Regions from separate parts of the Homo sapiens genome. Here region 1 is linked to region 2. A link means that fine-mapping ties the variant in region 2 to the expression of a gene that starts in the linked region. Tissue or cell type: lung. Region 2 holds a variant in brackets; the other region holds the start of a gene. All regions are shown on one strand. Distances are between the middles of the regions.

What was found. PIP is the estimated chance that this variant, and not a neighbour inherited with it, causes the effect.
Region 1: it holds the start of FAM117B, and the variant in region 2 is fine-mapped to the expression of FAM117B in lung (TOPMed, PIP above 0.99).

What each region holds. Positions count from the first base shown.
Region 1 is chr2:202,633,785-202,636,284 of GRCh38, reverse strand. It overlaps FAM117B (family with sequence similarity 117 member B), which reads right to left and starts at 1,316. Exons shown (of 8, transcript NM_173511.4): 1 at 497-1,316. The coding sequence starts at 1,097. RefSeq lists silencers at 269-708, 809-858, 1,049-1,278.
Region 2 is chr2:203,579,914-203,582,672 of GRCh38, reverse strand. No RefSeq gene overlaps it. Among named protein-coding and RNA genes, the nearest start is that of RAPH1, 46 kb to the right of the region's middle. The variant T/C (reference allele first, on the strand shown) is at 1,098.

The sequences.
Region 1 (2,500 bases), 950 kb after region 2:
CCAAATCTGCCACTGCTAATGCATTCAGTACCCCAGATCTGAAACTGTTTTGTGAACAGAAATACTTAGCAGCAGCAGATATGGGCTATGCCAACATTAACCTTGTCCCTAAAACAAAGTGACAAACCACTCCTAGCCTCACCCTCAAGGGAGGGTAAGCAGTAACGACTCCTCCAGGAGTAAGGCCAGGAAGCCAGGTTTATCATTAACACTCATCAGCTCAAGCCCAAGGTTTAGCCGCTGCACCTCCACCACCAGGGAGCCGTGCGGGGCGGGCAGAGGGGTGAATGAGGCGGGCGGGCGGGCGGGGCGTAGGGTAGGCCCGGGAAAGGCGGGGCCGCACTGCCGGGTCCCCCACCGCCCGGCACCGCCCCCAGCCCCGCCCCCAGCCACCCGGGCTCCGCGGCAGCTCTGCAGTCCCCGCGCGATTGCAGCGCGCGCCCGGGACCCCTTCCCGCAGCCGCCTCCCCCTTGCTGCGCGACCCCCAGCACTTACCTGCTTTGCAAACCGGGGCGCTGGGGCTCCTCTTCTCCGGCGAGCTTCGGCTCTGCTCCGGAGACCTCCTCCGATGCCGGACGCGGGCTGGGGGTGGGGCCGCGCTCACCTCGCCGGTCCACAGGTGGGTGGGCGACGAGCTGGGCGACGACACGGTGCCCAGCAGCGGCGGCGGCGGCGGCGGCCGTGGGGGGCTCCCGCGAGCTCCAGGCGCGGCGCTGCGCGTGGGGCTGGTGCCTCGCGTGGACGTCGCGGACGCGCCCGTCTGCGTGGCCACCGTGGGGCTGGTGCGCGCGGCCGCGTTCCCGCCGCCGCGCGTGGGGCTGGTGCTGCGCGAGGCGGTGCGCGGGCCACCGCCGCCGCCGCCGCCTGCGGGGCCTGAGGCGCCACCACAGCAGCCACCGTTGTTGTTGCCGCCGCCGCCGCCGCCGCTCCGCGTGGGGCTGCCATGTTGCTGCTGCTGCTGCTGCTTCAGCTGGAACGGAACCGTCGCCCTCATGGGCTGCAAGCGGCTCCCGGGTCCCCCGGCCGTGGCCACCGCACCACCCCCAAGGGAGCCGGCCGGCGTGGGGGACCCATTGCGCCTCACCCGCTGGGACATGGTCCCCCCCCTCCCCGGTGACTGGGCGAGACGGGGGGTTTTGTTGTTGTTGGGCTGCAGGGGGAGGATTCTCGAGGCCGGAGGGCAGGCCCCCCAAGACGGGGTGACGAAGCCGGACTCCGGGGTGCAGGGGGAGACCGGGCCGGGGCAGGCAGCAACGAGGTGGTGCAGCCGCCGCCGCCGCCGCCGCCGCTCCTCATCAACAATAGTGTCTCCTCTGCTGCCCCCGCCCCCCACGATCGCCCATTGGTGCAGCGTCAGCCGCGCTCGAGCCGCTCCACTGCTCCCATTGGCTACGAGCAGCTCGGGTCCCGGGCCCCCGAGGCCTTGAGAGCCTGGGTGTGCGCGGAGACCGTCTGCTCTTTAAAGAGAAAGAGACCCGCCCCCCGCGGGGAGGGAGCGGAGGAAATGGGCCCTGTGTGTATGTGTAGTGTGCGCGCGTGTGTGTGTACACGTGAGTGCCCGTGTACGCGCGCGCCTAGCCACGCGCGCCTTTCCTTTCCCGCCGGGGGGAGCCCTGGGGACTCAGACTCTGGAAGGTTGCCAAAGGAAATGTCCAGACCCGGAGCAGTTCCCAGGGATGGTCTGAAGCCTTTTCCGCATAACTCATTTCCTTACCCCAGTGTTCACTTGTGTTCACCTGTACGCGCATCTCGTTCGGGCTTTTATTCTTAATGTTTTTGTTCTGCCCTAATTCCATCTACCTATGGGCAGGGCTCAAAAGGAGAAGAAATTTAACTAATCTTACTGGCATTTTACGCCCCTCTCCTTTTATTTTTTAGAGCTCTACAAAGAGGCAAATCTCAGAAAGATTAAACTTGCCTGTTAGAATGCGATTTTAGATAGTATCTATAGAGTTCAGTTACCACATGTTATTCCTACCCTCCTGTATCTCAAGTAATCAAGACTATTTTAATCAGCTGCTTCGCTGTTCCCTGATACCTTGGAAGGATGGCTGCTACCTTACCAGTTTGTAAAGTGCTATAGTTTACAGAGGGCCTTATTTGATTCTACACGATCATTGTTTGAGACAGAACTGGGACAGCCATCCATATTTTTGTCTAGCGGAGGAAACAAGTCTTTGGTGTGGCAAAGACTCGGGAAGGCAGGCAGTGACACTATTTCTAAAATGACCTAAAGGGCTCCTCATCAAGAAAATAAAAAATGGTGGAGCCAAAACCTACACTCCCACCTGTCTGGCTATAAATTGCCTATCCATGACCTCTTTTCCCTCTACTATTTTTATTAGTTGTACATGCTAGACAGATTTCGTCGTGTAAAAATGTGGGAGTGGAGGGCATAGTATGATTCACTCTGGACCTGAAATCCTACTGGGTCCCTTTGCGCGGTGGTGGAAGGCCTTTTTTTTTTTTTTTTGAGAAGAAGTCTCTCTCTGTCACCTA
Region 2 (2,759 bases):
ACCAAGCCCATCCAAAGCAAACAGTTCCCATAACTGTTTACAGTAGAACAAACTTCTTCCTTTAGACAGGACGAATGTGGAAAATCACCCAGCTAGACATTGCTTGTTATTTTAACACTTTTGAAATTCAGAGAGGAGAGAGATCTAGCCCTCTAGTCAAAAGATCTAACTCTCTTCAAGAGGGAAGTGCGCAAATTTGGAAGCCCATCAAGTATCCTATCAGAGGCTATAAAGATTTCACTGTTTCTGTAACAGCCCCTTTTTATATAATCACTTAAACTGTGATTATGTTTAATATCTCTACCTAAATAGCACCTCCTGGCCCGGCTTTGAAATTCTCCTTGCTTTTCTGTGATACTACCCAGAGGAATTTCATAATTTGCCTGTGTTCCTCTGGCTTGGCATTGGCAAAACCAGCAAGACCATGGTGAGTTGCCTCCTATTCATTGGTTTCCACTGCTGGATTATCCTAGTTTTATTAGTTATAAATAAAGACTATTACGTTATTGCTGAAATATTCTGAGACAACCAGTAATGTATGCTAAATTATTTAAGAAAACATTTGTGGCTGGGCACGGTGGCTCACGCCTGTAATCCCAACACTTTGGGAGGCTGAAGCGGGCAGATCACGAGGTCAGGAGATTGAGACCATCCTGGCCAAGATGGTGACTCCCCGTCTCTACTAAAAATACAAAAATTAGCTGGGTGTGGTGGCACGTGCCTGTAATCTCAGCTAGTCAGGAGGCTGAGGCAGGAGAATTGCTTGAACCAGGGAGTCGGAGGTTGCAGTAAGCCCAGATCGCGCCACTGCACTCCAGCCTGGTGACAGAGCGAGACTCCGTCTCAAAAAAAAGCGAAAGAAAAGAAAAAGAAAAAAGAAAATATTTGCAAGTATTCACAGACCGAAGTCTGAAATGTGGTGAGCCAAAACAAGACATCTGGATGATATGCAAGTTAGTTGACAGTTTTATGAACCACAGGGTAGGGTCAGGTTAAGGACTATGGCATACGCCAGTACATGAATGATTTGAATGAAGCTACATGGATTTGAACTGTTGTTGTTGTTTTCTAGTTTCCCAAGTATCAGGAATCCCTGA[T/C]GCAACCTTGACTGAGCCTTTACTATTTTAAATTCTGAAATGACTAGCCCAATTAAAATAATTGACAGTATTAAATGTATTGGGAATAGCAAAACAATATTCAATACTTATTTATAATTCAATTCAATTTATAATTTCTGGACCTGTTCCAGAATTGAAAAAGACAGTATACAAAGAGAAAAATTACCCACTTCAATCTCCATGTTGCTACATTATTAAAAGGGAGTGGGTTGGGGGGATGGGGCGGGCAGCATGAAACAGCAATCTTTAAGAGGGTTTTACTTATTCAGGTTTAAAATAAGGTAGGCATTCATTCAGATGCCTTACAGGGGTTAATTCATGATTACTTGAGATCCTGACAGCTAACGATCCAGGAAAAAGGAAGGATCATGGGAACCCCTGGCTTTACCCTTCTGTGTGTTCAGCTAAGAATGAGAAGGCCCTTTGGCATCATGTGCCTTTCTTTGCCCCGAAAAGCTGAGAGTAGACATCAGCTCTGCTGTCAGATTGGCTAATGAATGTGCTGGCATGCGCCAGTGGCAGCTGCACGTGCTTCCAGAAAACTCTCCTCCCCACAAATCAGCCTTTGTATTCCTAATCCTGGGAATCAGGGTGCCATGCATGGAACTACAGCCGCTGCTATATCAGTCTAGGAAATAAACAGCACTAACTCCAGGCCACAGAGCTGTCAATCTGTTTATAATTCCAAAAAGCCCTAAAAATGCTAATATATACCTTTTTAGATGTCTTTTACATAAGGATTGGTTGAAATGTAAAAAATGTACTTTACTCAGATGTTGCTGCTCTATTCTTTTTAAAGTAAAGAAGATAAATTGTAAAGAGCCTTGGCTATTTTTTTTAAATAGAATTTTTAGTTTCTTTTTGTTGTTGTGTTTTTATTTGTTTGTTTGTTTGAGACAGAGTCTCACTCTTTTGCCCAGGCTGGAGTGAACTGGCACGATCTTGGCTCACTGCAACCTCCGCCCCAGGGGTTCAAGTGATTCTCCTGCCTGAGCCTCCCGAGTAGCCGAGATTATAGGCATCCACCACCATGCCTGGCTAATTTTTGTATTTTCAGTAGAGACAGGATTTCGCCATGTTGGCCAGGATGGTCTCAAACTCCTGACCTCAGGTGATCCACCTGCCTCAGCCTCCCAAAATGCTGGGATCACAGGCATGAGCCACCACACCCAGCCTGGGAATTTTTAGTTTCAAACAGAGGGGAAGCATTAAAAAAAAAAGTTTACATAAATGCTAGATTATTTACCATTACAAACAGAATTGCAGGCATATGCAATGAGTAGTTAATACTCTAATGTCTATTATTGGCATGCTTTTATTTTGTTTTGTTAAAACAGTCCATACTTGTCTCTATTCACTATTGAAGGAAATAAAAATATTTCACCCCAGAATATATTTATTTGACATACTTTGTGATGGCTCTTCAGAGGGCCTGCAAAGAGAAGTAGCCCTGGAAAGCTGTCTATTGTCAGGAAAATATGCATCTGGAAGCTATACATTGCTGCAGCCAGGCTTTCTCTGAGACTTTCCCTTGGCTGGATCTAGGAAAGATTAACTGGAAGTCTGACACCTTCAAAGGTCTGAAGGAATCATTTACCTTCTATTCTCTCTGAGGGCTGCTACCCGGCAGGCAAGACTACC